Homo sapiens: one gene and its partners. The protein of the gene in region 4 purifies or fractionates together with the protein of the main gene of each other region. This does not show direct contact. Each region holds a gene or a part of one and is shown on either strand. Other genes may lie near its edges.

Region 1 (3,500 bases), on a different chromosome or scaffold from region 4:
GGGCAAAACATAGTCACTAATCATTCTGGCTTCCAGCTCTAGTGACCCAACCCTGTCTTCTTTCCCTCTGACCAGTACTATGACGACACCTACCCCAGTGTCAAGGAGCAAAAGGCCTTTGAGAAGAACATTTTCAACAAGACCCATCGGACTGACAGTAGGTCATTTTCCTTTCACTACTACCCGTGCTGGGGGGAACCATGGTGGAAAGGGGGTGGTAACAGGGCTGCAGAGAAAGGATGAAATGACTCTGCCTTTTTCTTTTTTTTTCCTTCTTCCCCTTGTATAATAAACTCTTCAGAATGTAATGGGGAGGTGAGTGTACCTCACGCGGGAATACCATGCTGGAAGGTTGGCTGTTAGCTACCTGTCTAGTCCCTGGATTTATGAGCCTCACTTGACAAATTTAATTGCAGCTCTGCTTATTGTACCGCATCCATTAGGGCAGGTAAATGGAAGTCTGTAAAGGTGACCGCTCTGCATTTTCACCTCCGAAGGATCGACTAGTATCCTGTCTCATATACAAGTAGGGAAATAGGTATAGTGGGCAGGAACAGAGGATGGTGGTTACAGAAGATACATTTAGACTCCCCCAAGTTCATACTTCTCTTCTCCTGCCACCACCCAAAAAGTGCAGATCATCTTCTGGCTTTGGAAGTCATTACAGGCGGCCTCACCTTAGCCCAAAAGAGCTGGATACTAGGAATTCATGGTAACGCCTTCTTTTTTTTTTTTTTTTTTTTTGAGACAGAGTCTCTCTCTGTCACCCAGGCTGGAGTACAGTGGCGAGATCTCGGCTCCCTGCAACCTCCGCCTCCCAGGTTCAAGTGGTTCTCCCATCTCACCCTCCTGAGTAGCAGGGATTACAGGTGCACACCACCACGCCCGGCTAATTTTTGTATTTTTAGTAGAGACGGGGTTTCACTGTGTTGGCCAGGCTGGTCTTGAACTCCTGACCTTAGGTGATCCGCCAGGCTCGGCTTCCCAAGGTGCTGGGATTACAGGCATGAGCCACTGCGCCTGGCTGGTAACTCCTTCTTTCCTACTTCCTTATCTCAAGCCACCCACTATTTTTACTTTTTTTCCCCCACCAGGTGAAATTGCCCTCTTGGAAGGCCTGACAGTGGTATACAAAAGCAGTATAGATCTCTATTTCTATGTGATTGGCAGCTCCTATGAAAATGAGGTGAGAATCCCCACCCCTCTTTGCTATTTCTGATCCTACTTTCTAAACCACAGGCAGTACATAGCCACTGGTTTGGGGCCCTAATAGAGCCGTGTTCCTCTGGCTTCTGACCAAGCTAATGAAGTTGTCAGAGATCCCACCAGCCTCACAAACATGGCCCGGCAAATGAATCGCCTAGAAAGGAAGTTTTCCTAGATTAATCTTTTGCATCCATTAGGAAACATCATATATGTTTTAATACCTTTCCCTGAGTAGTGTTTTTTAAGATGGATTTCTGAGGTATGGTCAAGACTGCAGGGGGATACTTGCTTCTTCTATGAAGGGTCCATACCTGACTGAGTTTGAGCCAATTAGCTAACAACCTGGGTCATGTTGAAACCATACATTCTGAATGGATCACTGGAGAAGACCTTGGGTATAGTCCTAACCTGCTTCCTATATGCAGGAAAAGCTGTTTGCCTCAGATAGCAACTTCTAGGAGAATAGATAAATAAAAATAAGCCCCCAGATAATTTGAGGCAAAAGTGAAAGTTTGAGAAAGTCAACTCTTACTGAGCTCTTATTATTGGTATAAGTGCTTTGTAAAGTATATTGTTATTTAAACCTCATAGCACTTCTATGAGTTGTAGGCATTGGTGCCTTTGTTTTACAAATGAGGAAACCAAACCATGAAGAACTATATGAAATTACTTGTATGTGACCATTGAGAAAAGTACAAAAGTGGCAGTTATCTGATGTGGTTCAACCTAGTAACTTTCTCAGGGTCACACATGTAGAAAATGGCTCAGCTTGGATTCCAACCCATATCTGTCTGACTTAAAGTCCATGCTTTTTAAAAAATTTTGAGACATAGGCCGAACGTGGTGGCTCACACCTGTAATCCCAGCACTTTGGGAGGCCAAGGTGGGCGGATCACTTGAGGTCAGGAGTTCGCGACCAGGCTGGCCAACATGGCGAAATCCCATCTCTACTAAAAATACAGGCCAGGCATGGTGGCTCACACCTGTAATCCCAGCACTTTGGGAGGCCGAGGCAGGCGGATCACGAAGTCAGGAGATTGAGACCATCCTGGCTAACACAGTGAAACCCCATGTCTACTAAAAATGCAAAAAATTAGCTGGGCGTGGTGCGGGCACCTGTAGTCCCAGCTACTCGGGAGGTTGAGGCAGGAGAATGGCATGAACCTGGGAGGCGGAGGTTGCAGTGAGCCGAGATCATACCACTGCATTCCAGCCTGGGCAACAGAGCGAGACTCCGTCTCAAACAAACAAACAACAACAACAACAAAAATTAGCTGGGCGTGGTGGTGGGCGCCTGTAATCCCAGCTACTTGGGAGGCTGAGGCAAGAGAATTGCTTGAACCTGGGAGGTGGAGGTTGCAGTGAGCTGAGATTGCGCCATTGCACTCCAGCCTGGGTGACAGAGCCAGACTCTCAAAAAAAAAAAAAAAATTTGAGACAGGGTCTTGTTCTGTCTCCCAGGCTGGACTGCAGTGGTGCGATCTTGGCTCACTGCAACCTCTGGCTCCCAGGCTCAAGTGATTCTACCACCTTAGCCTCCCAAGTAGCTGGGACTGCAGGTGCCCACCACCATGCCTGGCTAATTTTTTTTTGTATTGTTTGTAGACAGGGTTTTGCCATGTTGCCCAGGCTGGTCTCAACTCCTGAGCTCAAGCAATCGGCCTGCTGCAGCCTCCGAAAGTGCTGGGATAGAGTCAGAGTCTAGACAGGGTCTAGACGTTACAGGTGTGACCCACTGTGCCCAGCCAATTAAAGTCCATGCTTTTTACACTAACTCTGAAGCCTTCCTCTGACCTCAGCTATTGCTTGGTTAGTAATTTCTCTACCTAAGACATCAGGTAACACATATACAGTTGGTGAAGACATTGTAGAGGACTGTGACAGGGAAGTTCTGTTTAAACTTTTGGCTAAAAGATGTTGAATTGTGGAATCATGTAGCAGAATTTATTTCTGTGAGAAATCACAGATCCTTTTCCTGTTGTGCTCTCACTTCCACTTTATGTTTTTGGTCCTTTGTGAAAGCCTGTGTCTTTTGATGTTTAATGAATTAGGAGGTTTTGTTTTTAGGTAGCAGCTTTCAGGGCCTTGAACCTTATCCTTCTGCCTCCTCTGTTTCCCAACAGCTGATGCTTATGGCTGTTCTGAACTGTCTCTTCGACTCATTGAGCCAGATGCTGAGGTGAGCAGGACATTCTTTTTTTTCCCCTCAAGTTATGATGGAAAGAGCAGGGCATTGTTGATTTCTTTTTGGGAGATAAAGTAACCATTCTTCAGGCCCAGGGATTGTAGGGGAT
Region 2 (3,500 bases), on a different chromosome or scaffold from region 4:
AAACCTAGACAGGCCATTTTCCTTACTTGGTAAGTGAGTTCCTTCACTTTTCTCTCATGTTTGCGTAGACCCTTGACAGCTTCAACATTGCGCTTCTGTTCACTTTCAACTTCACCTTCAAGTTCACGAACCTACAAGAAGATGGACATTTTAAGGACATTCATTTGACGAATTTCTACTTCTTCACATGACCCACATACTTCTTCTACTCTGCTTTATATGTAGTTTTTAATGCCCTAGTTCAGTTTTCCTTATTATGAGCTTTTGGGCATGAGGGAATAGCTCTCCCTCATCTCAGTATGCCCCACATCATCTAGCAGTGCTAGGTATTCAGAATCGTGTGTTGGATTGGAATGAGATAGAAATACATGCTGATTAGGAGACCCACCCTGGCCTCCAGTTTCTGGATCTGCTTCTTCCCACCCTTCAGGGCCAGCTGCTCAGCCTCATCCAGACGATGCTGCAGGTCCTTCACCGTCTGTTCCAGGTTCTTCTTCATCCGCTCCAGATGGGCGCTGGTGTCCTGTTCCTTCTTCAGCTCCTCAGCCATCATGGCAGCCTAATTAGCAGTAAAACAGAATGGGTTAAGACAGCTAAGACAGCACATTAAGATTTAAGTTTGACCACCACTGTGTTACCCTTCACTCACATCAGTGATGGCCTTCTTGGCCTTCTCTTCTGCATTGCGGGCTTCCTGGATGATGTCTTCCATCTCTCCCTGGATTTGGGAAATGTCTGTCTCCAGCTTCTTCTTGGTGTTGATCAGGCTGGTGTTCTGTTTAAAATGTGAAATTTAGAAATATTAGGCACATGAGAGAAAAATTAGGAAACCTCATGTTCTAATGAACCATAAACTAATTAACTAAATGAATTCATTAATATTCCTCCTTGTTTCATAAATTATCTGAGTTGACATATGTTTAAAAGACAATCAACTGGCCGGGCGCGGTGGCTCATGCTTGTAATCCCAGCACTTTGGGAGGCCGAGGCGGGTGGATTACGAGATCAGGAGATCAAGACCATCCTGGCTAACACGGTGAAACCCCGTCTCCACTAAAAATACAAAAAATTAGCCGGGCGTGGTGGCGGGCGCCTGTAGTCCCAGGTACTCCGGAGGCTGAGGCAGGAGAATGGCGTGAGCCCGGGAGGTGGAGCTTGCAGCGAGCCGAGGTTGCGCCACTGCACTCCAGCCTGAGCGACAGAGCGAGACTCCGTCTCAAAAAAAAAAAAAAAATCAACTATGGATGTTATAGTTCAGATAAGAATATAGATAATCAAAAAAATAAAATATTTTAAACTTTATCCTTCATGAAATCTTATAAATAGATTTCTTAATAGTACCACGATTTCAGCAAGAATGTCATTTTCATACCCTTGTATTTGTTGCTATTCTATTATTACATGCACCTGGGTGTGCAGGAGCTGAACACGCTCACTGGCATCCAGGAGCTCCTGTTCTGCGATTTTCCTGCTCCTCTCTGTCTGTTCCAGAGTGGCCCGCAGCTCCTCGATCTCAGCCTGCAGCAGGTTGGCTCTGCGCTCCACCATAGCCAGCTGTTCCTTCAGGTCCTCCTGGCTCCGGAGAGCATCATCCAGGTGGAGCTGGGTATCCTGTGGAACAAACCGTCATTGAGACACCATGTATTCAGGGTTGCAGGCACCCCAATTGTCCTGGGATCATCTGTTGGACATATTTACCTTGAGGATGGCTTGGGTGTTCCTATAGTTCCTCAGGGCCTCAGCAGCCATGCGGTTGGCATGGTTCAGCTGGATTTCCATTTCATTGAGGTCTCCCTCCATCTTCTTCTTGAGCCTAATGGCATCATTCCTGCTCCTGATCTCAGCATCCAGTGTGCTCTGCATGGACTCCACGATTCTAATGTGGTTTCTCTTCATCTGGTCAATTTCCTCATCTTTTTCAGCAATTTTCCTATCAACCTCAGACTTGACTTGGTTCAACTCAAGCTGGATGCGCAGGATCTTTCCCTCTTCATGTTCAAGAGATGCCTTAATGACAGCAAGAGGTGACATTAGTAGAGTAATGGAAGTGTGTAGTATTCTAGAGATAAGAATGATTTATCATTCATGAAACCTTATTTATAAATAGATTTCTAAGTAGTAGTAAGATTTAAACAAGAGTGTCATTTTCATGCCTTTGCATTTTCTTGCTATTCTCTAACACACACACTGTCTGCCTTTGTGCTGCCATCATACATTTTTATTTTGTTGTTTTAGACATTTCTACAAATTATTGAATGTTATTGTTGATTTTATATGCTTTTATCTCCCTAGGTAGATTGTGCCCTTGAAAGCAGGGCCTTTAACTGATTCATCTTTGTTTGCTCAGTGTGTAGCACAGTTCCTGACATATGGTTATGTTGGTTGTATGCATGATCAGTTCTCCATTCTCATCCCTAGTTCATGGAGCAAAAATTATTTTTCGTTTCTCTTGATTCACCATTCCTTACATTTAATAGACCCCAATTCCTCTTCTAATTGTTTTAGAGTATGCAATAAAATGCTTACCTCTGCCTCCTCTAAGGCAGCCTGAAGTTCAGACTTTTCTTGCTCAACTTGCTTCTTTATTTTTTCCAGTTCATGGATGCGCTTTCCTCCTTCTGCAATCTGTTCAGTGAGATCAGAAATCTCCTCTGTTGGTGAACAAAAAATATAGAAATTTGTTTATAGTTGGAAAAGATTCTTTCAAATCTTTTATTGTTAAAGAAAAGGTAAAATGTTCTCACGTTGCAAATTCTTATTTTCCCGTTTCAAGGTTTCAAGTTGGTCTAAAGATTCCTCATAAGCATTCTTAATCTTAAATAGTTCTGTGCTGAGTGAGCGGGATTCCTTTTGAGAAGCTTCAAGTTCAGCATGAGTTTCTTCACACTTCTGTTTCCATTCTGCCAGGATCTGAAGGTCAAGGAATGGACAAGAAATTTAGTGGACAAAATTTGATGAGATAAAAACCATCTATTCTAGCACCTCTCAGAGTTGAGGTGTTCTGGGACTGAAAAAAAATTATGAATGAGAAGAATAGAAACCATAGGAGCACTTCCCCTCTCCACAGACAGCTGCTGATGGGTTAAGAGCTACTGAGAACAGCCCTCAGATGGTTTGAATTGGGCACACTGAAGGTAGCAGGCTATTGTTAATTCTGTGTTGAAAGTTGAAGCAAAAACTGGAGAGAATACCTTATCAAAGTTCCTTTGCTTTTTGTCCAGGGCGGCACAGGCAGCATTTGTCCTCTCAACATCAATCATGAGGTCCTCAACTTCATTCTGGAGCCTCTGCTTCGTCTTCTCAAGGGAAGCACATTTGGCATTCACAGCTTCTACATGTTCCTCAGCATCCTGCAGACGCTGAGCCAGCTTCTTCCTATGAAATATGGGCAATAAAAGTGAATGGCTGTCAACTGAATTGGGTGTTTCAAAGTGGGTACAAGAGAGTGAATTCCACAATCAGACTTCTTTAATACTTTGCTTCTCAAGCTTGTTTTGTAG
Region 3 (3,500 bases), on a different chromosome or scaffold from region 4:
AGGGGGCTGAAAGCCAATGAGTTCCTGACAATGGGTCTGGTTTCCACTTTCTTGTTAAAATAATAAAAACATTTAAAAGTTGATGAGTACTTATCTCATTAAATCCTCACACTAACGCTGTGAGACTAGATGAGTGTTTCTTAACCCTGGCAGCATATTAGAATCACCTCCAGAAATTCTAGAAAAGTTTTTCGTTTTTGTTTTTTGAGATGGAGTCTCACTCTGTCGCCCAGGCTGGAGTGCAGTGGCGCAATCTCAGCTCACTGCAACCTCCGCCTCTCGGGTCCAAGTGATTCTCCTGCCTCAGCCTCCCGAGTAGCTGAGATTCCAGGCGCATGCCACCATGCCCAACTAATTTTTGTATTTTCAGTAGAGACAAGGTGTCACCATGTTGGCCAGGCTGGTCTCGAATTCCTGACCTCAAGTGATACACCCACCTCGGGCTCCCAAAGTGCTAGGATTACAAGCATGAGCCACAGAGCCCAGCCCTTCTAAAAAAGTTATCAAAGTCCAGGCCCCCCTCCAAGAGATTCTGATGCAGTTGGTCTGGGATGAGACCCTAGGCACTCGTATTTTTTTAGGCGAATCTGATGTACGTCTAGGGTTGAGAACCATGGAATGAAGTTCTCTGTTGACTGATGGGAGTGGGGTGGTGGATGGCTACAGGTGGGCGGTAAAGGATTGCTGAGCAGCACTGAGGGCCTAGGTAAAGTCAGAGACCAAGTATTAGTAGTCCCAATCCCCAAGGCTGTGTGACTTTCCAGTAGGGCCCAGCAGTTCTGGGGAGCTTTTTTTTTTTTTTTTGAGATGGAGTCTCGCTCTGTTGCCCAGGCTGGAGTGCAGTGGTGTGATCACGGCTCACTGCTACCTCTGTCTCCCAGGTTCAAGTGATTCTCCTGCCTCAGCCTCCCGAGTAGCTGGGATTATAGGCACCCGCCACCACACCCGACTAATTTTTGTATTTTTAGCAGAGACGGGGTTTTACCATGTTGGCCAGGCTGATCTTGGACTCTTGACCTCAGGTGATCCGCAAGCCTTGGCCTCCCAAAGTGCCAGGAGTACAGGCATGAGCCACCGGCGCCCGGCTGAATTTTTCTTTCTTAAGTAACTGTTTCAAATTTGAGCCAAGCTACTGAAATAAGTTCATCTATAAGCAAATATAATACTCATATTGGAATTATTAGTAAATACTTTATTTACATACTTATTAAAAATCAAGTATTAATATTTAAGTTGCCCCCAGCTAGACGTTTTCAAGGAAATCTTTTCTTTTCTTTTCTTTTCCTTCCTTTCTTTTTTATTGATGCATAGTAGATGTACAGTTTCAAGGTAATGCAATAATCTAATACATTCATATAATTGGTAAAGATCAAATCAGTATACTTGGAATATCCATCACCTTAAATATTTGTCTTTTCTTTATACTAGAACCACTCGAATTCTTCTCTTCTAACTATAGATCTAATTTTAAGTGCATAGAAAGTAGACCATTGGATTGATCCTGAGTAGCAGGGAGGTGGATGCAGGGAGGTGGCCAAAAGAAAAACTGGACCTCCTCAATCCAATGATCAAGCCCTTAGGCCTAATTTTGAGTGTGCAGGGGATAGGAAAACAAACATGAAGCCTAGGAGAAAGTGGGGAGATTAGGGTGGGCTTGAGGGCTTGGGGGTCTGTGAGGAGAAGAACAGAGGAACAGGATTGGCGGAGGCAGGAAGGGAAGGGGAAGGAGGGAAGCTGTGGTCAGTGGATGGGTCTCAGAATCTGCAGAGCTTATAGCGACAAAAGGGCAGGGTGTGGGCACAGGGGTGGGGTCTGAAGCAGAATGACAGAATGTGAAAGGAGCTGAACCCTAAAAGGCCAGAGGGTCCCAGGGTCCCTCACCGACTGGTGCCTTCAAAAAACACTTGAAACAACCCAGCTGTCCTTCAACAGGTGAATGGTTCGACATACTACAGCACTTCCACATCATGGGATACAGGTTGAATATCATTTATCCAAAATGCTTGGGACCAGAGTGTTTCGGATTTGGGAATATTTGCATTAAACTTACCAGTTGAGCATCCCTAATCTGAAAATTCAAAATCTGAAATGCTATAATGAGCATTTACTTTGAGTGTCATGTCAGCGCTCAAAAAGTTTCAGATCTTACAGCATTTTGTATTTTGTATTTTTGGATTAGGGATACTCAACTGGTACTATTTAGCAATACAGAGGAATAAACTATTGATAAACAAAACCACCTGAATGAAATCTCCAGCGAATTATACTGGGTGAATAAAACCAATCCCAAAAGGTTACATACTGTATTATTCCATTCATATAACATTCTTGACATTATAAAGTTACACAAATGGAGAACAGATAAGTTGCTGCCATGGGTTAAGAGGGCAGAGGTGGGGCAGGAGGGAAGCGGGTATAGTTATAAAAGGCCAAGAGGAGGGATCCTTGTAGTGGTAGGATTGTCTGTATCTTGACTACATCAATGTCAATATCCTGTTTGTGCTATTGTACTATAGTTTTGTTAGGTGTTACCATTGGGAGAAACAAAGGAATACGTATTATTTCTTTTCCTTTTTCTTTTTTTCTTTTTTAGAGACAAGGTCTCATTCTGTTGCCCAGGTTGGAGTGCAGTGGCGTGATCCTGACTCACTGCCGCCTCAAACTCCTGGGCTCAAACAATCCTCCTACCTCAGCCTCCCAAGTAGCTGGGACTACAGGCACACACGACCATGCCCAGCTAGATGTATTATTTCTTAAAACTGCATGTGAATCTATAATTATCTCAAAATAAAAGGCTTTATAAAAACAAATTTAACCCTAATCTACTTTCCTAGTGAATAACGTGCCACTCCTTTCCATATATCTCATGAGTGGCCACATTGAACTTATTTTTTTTCCAGAGAGGGTAAGGTGCCTCTTTAAAGCCACATGCACCAGGTGTGGTGGCTCATGCCCCTATAATCTTAACACTGTTGGAGGCTGAGGCGGGAGGATCGCTTGAGGCCAGGAGTTCAAGACCAGCCTGGGCAACATAGCGAGACTCCATCTCTACAAAGATAAAAACAACAAAACAAAGTTTTTAAAAAATTAGCTAAAGCCGCCAGGCACGGTGGCTCATGCCTGTAATCCCAGCACTTTGGGAGGCCGAGGCAGATGGATCACCTGAGGTCAGGAGTTCAAGACCAGCCTGGCCAACATGGTGAAACCTCATCTCTACTAAAAATACAAAAAACTAGCTGGGCGCGGTGGCGGGCACCTGTGATCCCAGATACTTGGGAGGCTGAGGCAGGACAATCGCTTGAACCTGGGAGGCGGAGGTCGCAGTGAGCCGAGATCGTGCCATTGCACTCCAGCCTGGACAACAAGAGTGAAACTCCGTCTCAAAAAAAAAAATAAAAAAAAGTAGCTAAAGCCATATGCAGTGCAACAGTCTCTTAGGTTAGATGCTTGTGAAAACATATTAGGTGAAAACTGCATATAGCCAAAATTACCCTAGAATA
Region 4 (3,500 bases):
TAGGTGACTCTGGCTTGGGGTCTTTTTTATTTTTTTTTTGAGATGTAGTCTCGCTCTGTCACCCAGAGCTGGAGTGCAGTGGCACGATCTCAGCTCACTACAACCGCCACCTCTCAGGATCAAGCGATTATCCTGCCTCAACCTCCCAAGTAGCTGGGACTACAGGTGCACACCACCACACCCAGGTAATTCTTCTATTTTTAGTAGAGACGGGGTTTCGCCATGTTGGCAAGGCAGGTCTCGAGTTCCTGACCTCAGGTGATCCACCCACCTTGGCCTCCCAAAGTGTTGGGATTACAGGCATGAGCCACGCACCCGGCCAGGGGCTTTCATGAAGTTGTAGTAAAGCTGTCTACTGCATTTGCATTCACCTCTAGGCTCAACTCTGCCTGGAGAATCTGCTTCCAAGATCACTCACACCGAAGATCTGCATCCAAGTTTACTGACAGACCTCGTTTTTAACCACATGGACATCACTACAGACTGCCTGAGTGTTCTCAGGATATGGTAGCTAGTGGTCCCAGGGAGAGGGAGAAAGCCAGAATCCCAAGAGAGAAGCCACAGTATTTTATAACCTAATCTTAGAAGTGACATCCCATCACTTTTGCTGTATTCTATTCAATAGCCCCCACTCAAGGGGAGGAAATTACACTAAGGGTATGCATACCAGGAGGGAGGGATAATTGGGGGCCATAATAAAGGCTGCCTACCACAGTACGCATGATAAAAATTTAAAAACATAAAACAAAAAAACTTGCCCTTTAGTTATATATTCTTTGGTATATTTATTTAAATATGATTCTATGATCATTATGCAATTATTCATCCCAATGCTAGTCTTTTCCATCTTACAAAATACCAAAGAGAATACATTAAATATTGAACATATCTTGTTAACCAGTGTCCATTAATGGTCATATTAGAGATAATACAACTAGCAAGGATAAGTCAACAAAAATAGCATCTGGAGAAAAAAAGACTTACTGGGTAAATCTTGCTAAGTAGATGACACTGACCTTTACTATTTAATCATTATAGGCATCATCTTTAGGAGACGGAATGGCACTTAATAAAAGATCAGCTTTTTATATTACAATTAAAGAAATAATAAAAATTCAAAGGTTACTTAGTAAGCTAGAGGATATATCAATCTACCGTTAAGAAATAAAAAGGTTGCCAAGCGCAGTGGCTCACACCTCTAATCCCAGCACTTTGGGAGGCCGAGGCGGGTAGATTACCTGAGGTCAGGAGTTCGAGACCAGCCTGACCAACATAGTGAAACCCTGTCTCTACTAAAATACAAAAATTAGCCAGGTGTGGTGGCACACGCCTGTAATCCCAGCTACTTGGGAGGCTGAGGCAGGAGAATCGCTTGAATCCGGGAGCTGAGATCCCATCACTGCACTCCAGCCTGGGTGACAGAGTGAGACTCCATCTCAAAAAAAAAAAAAAAAAAAGAAAAGAAAAGAAAGGAAAGAAGGAAGAAAAAGGTTTAAGGCTAATTACACATACCTGATTATCAGAATCAAACAGTGCATCACGGCTGAGTGTGTTGGCTCACACCTATAATCCCAACACTTTGGGAGGCCAAGTCAGGAGGATCTCTTGAGACCAGGCTGGGCAATATCATAAGATCATCTCAGCCTGGGCACAATGGCTCACACCTGTAATTCCAGCACTTTGGGAGGCCGAGGCAGGCGGATCATGAGGTCAGGAGTTTGAGACCAGCCTGGCCAATATGGTGAAACCCCGACTCTACTAAAAAATACAAAAATTAGCCGGGCATGGTAGCACACACCTATAGTCCCAGGTACTTGGGAGGCTGAGGCAGAAGAATTGCTTGAACCCGGGAGGCAGAGGTTGCAGTGAGCCGAGATCGCGCCACTGCACTACAGCCTGAGCAACAGAGTGAGACTCAATCTCGAAAAAAAAAAAAAAAAAATCCTGTCTCTAAGAAAAAATTTTAAAACTGGCGGGGCACGGTGGCATGCACCTGTAGTCCCAGCTACTCAGGAGGCTCAGGTGGGAGGACTGCTTGTGCCCGGGAGTTCAAGGTTAGAGTAAGCCATGATTGCCCCACTGCACTCCAGCCTGGGCAACAGAATGAGACAGAGGATAAAAAGATAACAATAAATCTTCAGAGAAGAAGATATCTTTAAAACCTCTTTCCTCTACCAGGCTTCTTATTCTTGGTCTCCTTTCCCTTAAGTAGCTCTCCTTTACTTTATTTACTTGGCAACAACTATTTCCAACCTAACACAATTATCTCAAGACTATCTAAATATAAAATATAATTTTATAGGCCAGGTGCGGTGGTTCATGCCTGTGATCTGAGCACTTTGGGAGGCCAAGGCGGGCGGACCAGGAGGTCAGGAGTTCGAAACCAGTCTAACCAACACGGTGAAACCCCGTGTCTACTAAAAATACAAAAATTAGCCAGGCGTGGTGGCACGTGCCTGTAATGCCAGCTACTTGGGAGGCTGAGGCAGGAGAATCGCTTCAACCTGGGAGGCAGAGGTTGCAGTGAGCCAAGATCATGCCATTGCACTCCAGCCTGGGTGACAGAGAGAGACTCCGTCTCAAAAAAAAAAAACAAAAAAAAAGTGTATATATATATATATATATATATAAAATTTCATAAATAAAATACTATTTACATTTTCACTGGAAAAACCACAAAGTATACTATGTGGATTTTCTTGCCTCCAAAAGCAATTGTGTTATTTCAAGTGTTGAGGATGCCAGAAAGCTTGAAGATTTAAAAATAACCTCACAAAGAGCTCATTTTCAACACCAGATGGAAAGAAATTACTCTAAAGACACATGTGTAGGAAGACAAATATACAATATCATATGATACCATGCAAAAGGTTTATATAATTACGTAATACCATCAAGACTGGAAAGACTGCAGGTAGTAAGCTGGCAACAGTGTCGATCCTCTGAATCATTAAAAAAAAGAGAAAAGGGCAAGAAACAGCAAGTGGGTGGTAGCAAAAAAAATTTTTTAAAGCCTTTACTTTAAGCTGCCTTCCATGTGTCCCTATCGCATGCTGAAATGGTAGGCAGGTAAAATTTGAGGGCTTAAATCCTTGGCACTCCTGAGAGTCCTGCCTGTGTCCATATGGCCAAAAACTGGGGAGGGAAGGGGGAATGGGATGAATTTCAACAATCTGTATGAAATGTATTATTAAGGTGAAACACTCTTCACTTGAATACATATAGAACTTCTAATTGGTAAATTAAAATATGTGCTTGGCATCTAAGTTAAAGCAGCATTTCTTTATAAGATAGGTTTAAAGATATGCCATTAAGATCCCATTGTGTTAAAATGATTTTAATAGGATTACTTAAGAGTATATGTAAGTACTAATAGCTGTATATCAATCACAACTAAACCTTGGCCTAATACTATGTATTCATAAATCACCAAAAATATACATTTCTATTACACGTATGGGTTACAGGCTTAAATTTAACCAATTCAAAACAACTCTATT
Region 5 (2,592 bases), on a different chromosome or scaffold from region 4:
ATCCAGTCAACAGTGGAGTGGCTGGCAGCAGAGAAAAGTGTTTGCCACTGCCTTGTCAGCATGGAGTGAATGGAGAGTGTGGCTGCAGATGTTAGAGAAGAGTAGGAGAGAAAAGGCAAACAAGAGGAAATATAATTAGGGCTTTGGTAAGGAAGTGGGAACTAAGGAAGAGGCTAACCAGTGAACTAATTCAGATATGATCAAATAAACAGGAAATGAAACAATCAGAAGGCAAGGGAGAGAGGCAGGACCAGCCTGACAGAAGTGGCAATCAAGTGCCAGAAGTTAACTTTTCTTTACCATCTCATAACCTCTTTCCACCTCACCTTTCATCATTTTGCCCTTCTTCATCCTTTGCTGCCCTCACATACTATCTCATCTCAGTTCCTAACTGCTTGTCTGAGAAGCAGATAGTCACACAAGACATGCGATCTCACATCCTTTCATGTCAATCTTGGTCTGTGCCCCAGCCCCATACCAAGTTACACAAAAAAATGAAATTATTTCATCTTTCTCTTTATTCTGACAACATTATGACATTAAATAAAATCCAAGAGGTATTGGATTAGTCCTTGTTTGGTCTCTGGTGATTTAGATAAGGCAGAACTGAGCCCCTCGGAATGTATTATCTCAAAGAGCTAGTAGCAGCTGCTATGCAAAGTTCTAAGGCCCGAGTCAAATCCTGGGCATCTCCACAGATGTGTGGTAGGGCACGGGCTCCAGCTCTTGTGTAAGAAAGAACAGGAATGAGAACAGCTTTATTTTGTAGCGCCAAGGTCTCACTATGCTCACACCTGTAATCCCAGCTTTGAGAAGAGGATCTGGCACCAGAAGGGTCTGGTAGAAGAAAGTGGGAAAGGTGAAGGACAGGAATCTTTTCCTTTCTGCTACAACCTAAGGACAGAGGCACATGACTCCAGCAAGGGGCCAAAGAAGGTAGCAGCTACTTGGGTCTTGTGTGGGAGATGCCAGACGACTCCAAGGCAGGTCAACTGGCTTTGTCAGGGAGTGGAATGCTGGCCATAAGAATGGAGACAAACTGTTCCAATTTCTGTGCAGCTTGTTTGCCAGCTGCTAAGACTTCTTCATGGTTGGCCTTCTCCAGGCTTTCATAATCCATGATGACCTTGTTAGTGATGAGTGAGAAGCCAAAGACTCGAAGTCCACAGTGCCGTGCAACGATAACTTCTGGTACTGTACTCATGCCTGATAGTGAGAAAGATGGAAACCAACTGTCAGGATCCTCAAATAACTCTTTTCCTTGCCCTTTAGCCTCGCTTTCAACAAGAATTAAAAATCTCAAAAAACATCCAAAGATGGCCGGGTGCAGTGGTTCACACCTGTAATCCCAGTACATTGGGAGGCCAAGGCAGGAGGATGTCTTGAGCCCGGGAGTTTGAGACCAGCCTGGGCAACATAAAGAGACCTCGGCTCAAAAAATAAATAAAATTAGCCAGGTGTGGTAGTGTACGCCTGTGGTCCCCGTTACTCAGGAGGCTGAGGTGGGAGGATTGTTTGAGCCCAGGCAGTCAGAACTGTAGTGAGCTAGAGATGGTGCCACTGCACTCCAACCTTGGCAACAGAGCAAGGCCCCACCTAAAACAAATCCAAAGAAGCAGCTAAATTATCTTCTGTATTGCCTAAAATAAATACACATTTCTTAAAATTACCAATACAATCCTTCATTTCTATATTTGTGGCAATTTTGAACTCAATCCTAATGATAGAGTTCCATCTTCCAGCTAGAGGTACAGAAGGTGGCTATAGTGAATTTTTTAGAATTCTTAGAAACAGTCATCACATTGGCCAGGCACAGTGCGTCGCGCCTGTAATGCCAGCACTTTAGGAGGCCAAGATGGGCGGATTACCTGAGGTCGCGAGTTCAAGGACCAGCCTGGCCAACATGGTGAAACCTTGTCTCTACTAAAAATACAAAAATTAACCGGGCGTGGTGGCACACGTCTGTAATCCCAGCTACTCGGAAGGCTGAGGCATGAGAATTGCTTGAACCCGGGAGGCGGAGGTTGCAGTGAGCCGAGATCATGCCACTGCACTCCAGCCTGGGCAACACAGCGACATTCCGTCTCAAAAAACAGTCATCAAATCATGGATAGATCATTCATTAGCACTGCAGCTGTTAACCCCTTGGTGCTTCGTAGGGAGATTTGATGCTACACCAAATCTCACCAGTTTGTATTTCAATAAGTCAGTTTAATTCACCCTTCCCTGAAATCAGATCCTCTCAGTCCAATGAGGCCTGTTATTTCCTACTCCTTCCCCTTCCCATTTTGCTAAACCCCTCCCTCTTCAAGCTTCCAGCCAAATTCCCCTTCTCACCAACAGCGTCTGCTCCCAGCTTCTGCAGCACACGACATTCTGCCACAGTCTCAAAGCTGGGGCCTGCCACCATCACATAGGTGCCTTCCTGTAGCTCACGTTGCTCCCCCATTTGTTTCCAGGTACTGAGAGCCCTCTGCCTCATAGTCCGGTCGTAGGCATCAGACATGGCAGGGAAACGATCTCCAAACCTAGGACACAGGTTGAATTATCTCACATAAACGGAATTTTAAAAATTCTCCCACAGCTCCTAGA
Region 6 (3,500 bases), on a different chromosome or scaffold from region 4:
AAGATAAACCTTTAAGATTCCTGCAGGGGCTCCTGCAAGAGGGGCCTCCCCATACCGGGCAGCGGGCACTCTACAGTGTGTCGTCTCTTCTAATCCTCCCCACGACAGTGGCAGCAGGTAGGCAGGATTCTCACCCCTGTTTTCCAGGTGGGGGGACTCCAGTTCAAAGAGCTCCAATGAATTGCCTAAGGCCATGGTTGTCAAGCTAGCAGGCATCCCAACCACCTGGAGGGCTCTACGCCCAGAACCATCATTTAGTGGGGCTGGGGCAAAGCCCAAGAGTTTGCATTTCTCTAACAAGTTCCCAGGTGATGCTGATGTTGTAGGCTGTGGGAGGACCACTGGCTTAAGGTTACCCAGCTACTTAGTGTCAAAGATGGAATTCCGACATACTTCACTGGACTTGGGTAATGTCATTTTCTTTTTTCTCTCTCTCTTTTTTTCCCCTCCGCGAGACAGAGCAAGAGCTCTGTCACCCAGGCTGAGTACAGTGGTGCGATCATGACTCGCTGCAGCCTTGACCTCCTGGGCTCAGGTGATCCTCCCGCCTCAGCCTCCCATGTAGCTGGGACTACAGGCACACCCCACCAAACCTGGGTAAATTTTTAAAAAGTTTTTTGTAGAAGGTCAGGCGTGGTGGCTCACGTAGCACTTTGGGAGGCCAAGGTGGGCAGATCACTTGAGGTCAGGAATTCAAGACCAGCCTGGCCAACATGGTGAAACCCCATCTCTACTAAAAATACAAAAATTAGCCAGGCTTGGTGGCAGGTGCCTGTAATCCCAGCTACTTGGGAGGCTGAGGCAGGAGATCTGCCTGAACTTGGGAGGCAGAAGTTGCAGATCGCCTCACTGCACTCCAGCCTGGGTGATAAAGTGAGACTCCATTAAGAAAAAAAAAAAGTTTTGTACAGATGGGGTCTCACTATGTTGCCCAAGCTGGTTGCAAACTCCTGGGCTCGAGTGATCCTCCTGTCTCAGCCTCCCAAAGTGTTGGGATTATAGGTGTGAGCAACCACACCCAGCCAGTTAATGTCAATTTCTGTCACAAACTCAATTTGTTGGCTTTCCAGAACCTTCTGAATAAGAAAATTTCAAAATGGGACAAAGCAGCCTGGATTCCAGCTCCAGGGATCTGGCCCTGTAAGGAGGAATGTCCACCATTAAATCACAGCAAGTCCAAGTCCTTGGAGGTGAGCCTGAGTGCCTCCCGTTTCACTGAAGAGGTAACTGGAGAAGTGGTATTGTTGCATTTAGGGCTTGATGATTTGGAGTAAAAGACACTGATGTTACCGATTGTGCCTATTTTTATCAGTGGCTTGTTAATTATTTGTTTTCATTAGTGATTTTTATATATGCAGATTTACCCACTTAATCAAACTGCAAACATTGATCAAGGCTTCTTTGTGTCCAGGTCTGGGCCACCCACTTCTCACACGGCACCTCAGTGAATCCTCGAGTCACTCTGAGAACACGGAGCCTCAGAGAGTTAAAGGGCTTGCCCAATCCAGGGTAAATCCACAGGTGGAGTGGGGACAGGGACCTGGGTTTGACCCCATACTCTGAACTGCCCTGGTCTGCTGCCCCCTGCTGAGCATGAGCGAAATGGCAGGACCTCAGCCAAGTCACTTTGTGGCTGTTCAGAGCCAAGCCTAAAGCTTGGTTCTTCCCACGAAGATGGGCTGTTGCAACAGGGAAGAAACAGAAATGAAGTGACTAACAGTTTCATGGCTAACCAATCTGCATACATAAAAATCACTAATGAAAACAGAAATAATTAACAAGCCACTGATAAAAATAGGCACAATCGGTAACATCAGTGTCTTTTACTCCAAATCATCAAGCCCTAAATGCAACAATACCACTTCAGGTGCTTTGTGAGAGGTAGTGTGTGTTGAAGGTTGTGTAGGCTGAGTTAGTTACCTCAGCTTTAATACTAGTGAAGTTAATAAGTGAAAACTAGAAGTCTGTTTTTTTTGTTTTGTTTTTTGAGACTGGGTCTCGCTGTTGCCCAGGCTGGAGTGCAGTGGCGTGATCATGGCTCACTGCAGCCTCAACTGCCCAGGCTCAAGCGATCCTCCTGCCTCAGCCTCCCGAGTAGCTGGGAATACTGGTGCCACCATGTCCAGCTAACAAAAGTTTGTGTTAAAATGTCTTGGCCGGGCATGGTGGCTCACGCATATAATCCCAGCACTTTGGGAGGCTGAGGTGGGAGAATCGCTTGAGCCTAGGAGTTTGACACCAGCCTGGGCAACATAGTGAAACCCTGTCTCTACCAAAAAAAAAAAAAAAAAAAAAAATGCTGGGTGTGGCGACACATGCCTGTGGTCCCAGCAGTATACTAGGGAGGCTGAGGCTGCAGAGAGCCATGATCGCACCACTGCACTCCAGCCTGGGCAACAGAGCTAGACCCTGTCTCAAAAAAAAAAAAAAAAAAAAGCCTGTTCACGTGGGCGGTTCTGGGCCAGGGTGGGGTGAATGTGGCACACATGTGGAGAGCCACACTGTCTGGAACACCTGCTGCTGTCTGCAGCCTGGGAAGCAGTACCTCAGCTGGATGGGGTCAGGTCAGGCAGGTGGGAAGGCATGGATCTCCCTCCCGGGCCAGGCTGCTCCAGGCTGCCCACGATGTGTAGGGTGCTAACTACAGTCTCAAACGGGCACTTCCAGCAGCAGCCAGGCCTGCTCTACGCCTGTGGCCACCCCTGGGTCCTGTGTTCTGTAGCCATCCTGAGGCAATTCAGCGCCAGGGCCTCCTAGGCTCTGCGTGGTGGCTCCTGACCACAGGAGTTCTGGCACCAAAACCCAATTATTTTTTCTTGGCCACATAAAAGTGGGTATGTCAAAGTGTCAAATCACTGGTTTTCATCCTAAAACTATGCCCCACAGACATCCCTGACCCCGTCCCCACTGCTGACCCCACTTCTGACCCATATCAGTGGGGTGTCAGCAGTGGAGGGAGGTTTACAGAGTCATTCATTTATTTAATCAATGGATATTTGCTAGATGCTTACTATGTGCTTACAAGCCCCTGCCCTCATAGAACTTACTCTCAAGTGGAGTAGATGGCCTTAAAAATGCAGGTAAGCATTTGGTGACGAGGAAGGACTTGAGTGGCAGCAGTGAGGCTGAGCCAAAGAAGCATGCTCTGTAAGACAAGCTCAGCGCGCCACCGTCCTCCAGCACAGCGCCGCATGTGTGTGGGAGAGAGACAGTGTGACTTGAGAGCACGGGCGCCCCCTGCAGTGCTGCCAAGGTGAGGGACTGGCCACCTCATCCTCCTCCACTGACAAGGTTGTGGGATCTCCAGGCCTGTGAACCCCAAGGAGAACCCCCTACTTGGGAGCTGCCCATTCTGGACTCAAGCACCAACCACAGTCATGGGCTCTGAATGCCTGTGGGTCTTCAGGGCCAAATTGGAGACGCTGCCGCTGCCAAGTTGAGACCTGAATGGCCAGGAGCTTTCAGATGACACTGTCCTTCCAGAGGAGACATTCTCAGGA
Region 7 (3,500 bases), on a different chromosome or scaffold from region 4:
CTGTGAGCTGTGACTGTGCCACTGCGTTCTGGCTTAAGGCGACAGAGTGAGACTCTGTCTCAAAAGAAAAAAAAAGAGAGAGAGAGAAAAGAAAGGGAAATGAAAAGGAGTGAAAAGGGAAAACAGGGACATGAGACAACAGGAATAACATTTTCCTCCCTAGGAATTTTGACTAGTGTCTTCTCTGACAGCTGGCTACACTTTGAGAGTGATCATGGCAATGCTGCAAAGGAGAGGACATGAAAAAGTGTTTAAAAAGATCAATAAGCAACCACTGACCAGGGCGAATATAGGCATCAACAGCAGACATCCTGGGGCCAGTGGACAGGTTTTATCAGAGTTCCCTACATCCAGGATGAGGAAAAAAATTATTTTCTTTTTTTCTTTTTTAGAGACAGAGTTTTGCTCTTGTTGCCCAGGCTGGAGTGCAGTGGCACAATCTCGGCTCACCACAATCTCCACCTCCTGGGTTCAAGTGATTCTCCTGCCTCAGCCTCCCAAGTAGCTAGGATTACAGGCATGGGCCACTACGCCCAGCTAATTTTGTAGTTTTAGTAGAGACGGGGTTTCACCATGTTGGCCAGGCTGGTCTCGAACTGACCTCAGGTGATCCACCTGCCTCGACCTCCCAAAGTGCTGGGATTACAGGCGTGAGCCACCGCGCCCAGCCAAAAAAAATTACTTTCAAATACTCATGCGTCATCAATCCCAGAACTGCTAATCACGCAAATGGGGAGCCCTTTTCTGGCAGCTTATCCACCTGTGTGGACATTTCACGCAGGTTCGAGGTTAAGACTCTCTGTTGAGACATTGCCAAATTAAGCCTCCAAAGCTGGTTACTAAACACAGAACTGTCGCCAGTGAGTTCATCGTCCTCACCTTCACCACTGTTGCTATTTCCTTCCACTGTTCCGGACGCGGGTCCACTCCCGTGGGATTGTGGGCGCAGGCATGCAGAAGAAGAACACTCTGCTCTGGTATTTTCTAAAGAGAAAAACAGCCAAGAGACGACTTTGCAGCTTTAAAGGAAATGGTTTATCTGAAATGCCACAGGATCGTCATCATTTGATAAGTAACAAAGGTAACCAGAACCCTGGGAATCAGCTCTTCCCCAGTATTTTAACTCAGATATTGGGACATGGTGGGAGACATCAAATGTCCGCAAGCAAGGAGTTTTATTCACCTCTCTCACCCTGAAAGCCACACTTACTGAAATATCCTCCACAGCGCCTGTGAAGTCAAAACCGCAAGTCTTGGGGTCATAATACCGATAACCTTGTAGCTGCATGCCAGCATCCCTGAAGATGGGTGTGTGGTTTCCCCAGGTTGGTTTGGGCAGAAAGACATCTCGGCTGAACTTAAAAAATCTTTGCTAAAAGATGGGACGAAAGGAAACAGAAAAATGAACAAAGGAGAGGCAAAAAAATGTTGATGTGTTTTATTGAGAGAACATTTTTCTCTGCTGAAACCCAGTTTCTCTCTATGGTTGAGAAGCAGTATTGACTCAGCAGTAAGACTGCCTGGGTTGGAATAGTCTCTGACAGTTATACTGGCCATGTAGCCAAGGACCTTTCTGGGTCTTGCTTTCTTCACTTGTAAAGGGGGTTAATTGTACCTCTCTCATAGGGATTAAACAAGTTAAAATGCAAAAGCTCCCTAGTAAATAGTAAGTTCCTAGTGAACTGAATTTATCATCATCACTAATATATCTTTCCTGTAATTTCTTCAAAGTCCTTTCATTTTTTCATGAGAATAGGACATCTGCAAACTTCACGGAAAGAAGAAATCTACTTCTGCATCAACAGTCAAATACACACACAACAGGAAGCCCTGTCATCTGGAATTTATAATTCTTTCCTGAAGAAGCTTCCAGACTCACCAGAAAACTGGCTCCGATCCTTAAGGCTCCAGTTCCAGAAATGGTCTGCACAGTGACAAACTGAAGGAGAGATACCCACGGTCAGTGATGTGCAACACTCTCTATACAGGCCCAGACCCAGGGCCACTGCTTTGTCCAGGACCTTTCATACTTCAGAAGCTCATTCTTTATGGCCTGTCAGTATCATTTCATGTTACACGGGAAACTTTCAGAACACAAAAATTCCTCCTCAATATGAAAAAGGGGTGAATTATATAAAAGATATAAAAAGACACTGAGAGGCTGGGTGCGGTGGCTCATGCCTGTAATCCCAGAACTTTAGGAGGCCAAGGCGGGTGGATCACCTGAGGTCAGGAGTTCGAGACCAGCCTGGCCAACATGGCGAGACCCTGTCTCTACTAAAACAAAAATTAGCTGGGCATGGTGGCGCATGCCTGTAATCCCAGCTACTGGAAAGGCTGAGGCATGAGAATTGCTTGAACCTGCGAAGTGGAGGATGCAGTGAGCCGAGACTGTGCCATTGCATTCTAGCATGGGCAAAAGAGTGAGACTCTGTCTCAAAAAAAATAAATAAATAAAATAAAAAGACACTGAGAACAGTCACTACATTAAAACATTACTTTAGAATTATACAAAGTAGAATGACTCTCTAAACATCAAAGTTCCTTGAAAAGCAAGTCAACAAGTATACAAGGATAACATTACAACATTTTAAAGGTTTTCTGGCCGGGCGCAGTGGCTTATGCCTGTAATCCCAGCACTTTGGGAGGCCGAGGTGGACGTATCACCTGAGGTCAGGAGTTCGAGATCAGCCTGACCAACATGGAAAAACCCTGTCTCAACTAAAAATACAAAATTAGCCAGGTGTGTTGGCGCATGCCTGTAATCCCAGCTACTCAGGAAGGCTGAGGCGGGAGAATTGCTTGAACCCAGGAGGCGGAGGTTGCGTTGAGCTGAGATCGTGCTATTGCACTCCAGCCTGGGCAACAAGAGCGAAATTCCATCTCTAAATAAATAAATAAATAAAGGTTTTCTAAGAGGTCCCCTTCTATGTGTTTTCATAATCTGAAAATATTCATGTTTTGGGTAATAGGAAGATGCCTAAGGTGAATCTCCTTATTCAAATTGGTCAACTTTAAGGGACAAACAAGAAATTACCATAGGTTTAAGAGGTTTTTGTTTGTTGTTTTTAAAGGTGTTGTAGAAGTACAAGGCTCTACAAAGCACAAATGTATTTTTCTGGACTGGGGTGGTAGTAGATTAAAGAGGGAAAAACCCAACTAAAAAATTATTTTAAATAGTTTGTCCTGCAAGCTTTGGCATGATGGAAATAAAAACCTCACTGTAGGTCCGATGATACTACGATTCACAAAGGCACAACAATTTTTTTTTTTTTTTTTTGAGATAGGTTCGTGCTCTGTCACCCAGGCTAGAATGCAATGGCATAAACTTGGCTCACTGCAACCTCCACCTTCTGGGTTCCAGGATTCCTCCCATGTCAGCCTCCCCAGTAGCTGAGACTACAGGCGTGCACCACCACACCTGGCTAATTTTTGTATTTTTAGTAGAGACGGGGGGGCGGGTCTCACCATATTGGTCAGGCTGGTCTCGAACTCCTGAC

Evidence for each region.
Region 1: the proteins of EPB41 (region 4) and COPZ1 purify together in Homo sapiens (co-immunoprecipitation; one large-scale study listed by IntAct). This does not show direct contact.
Region 2: the proteins of EPB41 (region 4) and MYH1 purify together in Homo sapiens (co-immunoprecipitation; one large-scale study listed by IntAct). This does not show direct contact.
Region 3: the proteins of EPB41 (region 4) and PIN4 purify together in Homo sapiens (co-immunoprecipitation; one large-scale study listed by IntAct). This does not show direct contact.
Region 5: the proteins of EPB41 (region 4) and PNP purify together in Homo sapiens (co-immunoprecipitation; one large-scale study listed by IntAct). This does not show direct contact.
Region 6: the proteins of EPB41 (region 4) and DYNLRB1 purify together in Homo sapiens (co-immunoprecipitation; one large-scale study listed by IntAct). This does not show direct contact.
Region 7: the proteins of EPB41 (region 4) and GOT2 purify together in Homo sapiens (co-immunoprecipitation; one large-scale study listed by IntAct). This does not show direct contact.

What each region holds. Positions count from the first base shown.
Region 1 is NC_000012.12:54,342,131-54,345,630, forward strand, and holds part of COPZ1 (coatomer subunit zeta-1), read left to right. Parts: intron 1-75; coding exon 76-157; intron 158-1,094; coding exon 1,095-1,186; intron 1,187-3,329; coding exon 3,330-3,385; intron 3,386-3,500. UniProt on the Homo sapiens protein: The coatomer is a cytosolic protein complex that binds to dilysine motifs and reversibly associates with Golgi non-clathrin-coated vesicles, which further mediate biosynthetic protein transport from the ER, via the Golgi up to the trans Golgi network.
Region 2 is NC_000017.11:10,494,543-10,498,042, forward strand, and holds part of MYH1 (myosin-1), read right to left. Parts: intron 3,376-3,500; coding exon 3,192-3,375; intron 2,911-3,191; coding exon 2,745-2,910; intron 2,652-2,744; coding exon 2,527-2,651; intron 2,008-2,526; coding exon 1,699-2,007; intron 1,612-1,698; coding exon 1,408-1,611; intron 776-1,407; coding exon 650-775; intron 560-649; coding exon 389-559; intron 132-388; coding exon 27-131; intron 1-26. UniProt on the Homo sapiens protein: Required for normal hearing. It plays a role in cochlear amplification of auditory stimuli, likely through the positive regulation of prestin (SLC26A5) activity and outer hair cell (OHC) electromotility.
Region 3 is NC_000023.11:72,188,257-72,191,756, reverse strand, and holds part of PIN4 (peptidyl-prolyl cis-trans isomerase NIMA-interacting 4), read right to left. Parts: intron 1-3,500.
Region 4 is NC_000001.11:28,921,069-28,924,568, reverse strand, and holds part of EPB41 (protein 4.1), read right to left. Parts: intron 1-3,500. UniProt on the Homo sapiens protein: Protein 4.1 is a major structural element of the erythrocyte membrane skeleton. It plays a key role in regulating membrane physical properties of mechanical stability and deformability by stabilizing spectrin-actin interaction. Recruits DLG1 to membranes.
Region 5 is NC_000014.9:20,474,998-20,477,589, reverse strand, and holds the end of PNP (purine nucleoside phosphorylase), read right to left. Parts: intron 2,529-2,592; coding exon 2,338-2,528; intron 1,207-2,337; coding exon 989-1,206; 3' UTR 501-988; downstream 1-500. UniProt on the Homo sapiens protein: Catalyzes the phosphorolytic breakdown of the N-glycosidic bond in the beta-(deoxy)ribonucleoside molecules, with the formation of the corresponding free purine bases and pentose-1-phosphate.
Region 6 is NC_000020.11:34,536,922-34,540,421, reverse strand, and holds part of DYNLRB1 (dynein light chain roadblock-type 1), read right to left. Parts: intron 1-3,500. UniProt on the Homo sapiens protein: Acts as one of several non-catalytic accessory components of the cytoplasmic dynein 1 complex that are thought to be involved in linking dynein to cargos and to adapter proteins that regulate dynein function.
Region 7 is NC_000016.10:58,717,317-58,720,816, forward strand, and holds part of GOT2 (aspartate aminotransferase, mitochondrial isoform 1 precursor), read right to left. Parts: intron 1,940-3,500; coding exon 1,880-1,939; intron 1,373-1,879; coding exon 1,211-1,372; intron 985-1,210; coding exon 880-984; intron 1-879. UniProt on the Homo sapiens protein: Catalyzes the irreversible transamination of the L-tryptophan metabolite L-kynurenine to form kynurenic acid (KA). As a member of the malate-aspartate shuttle, it has a key role in the intracellular NAD(H) redox balance.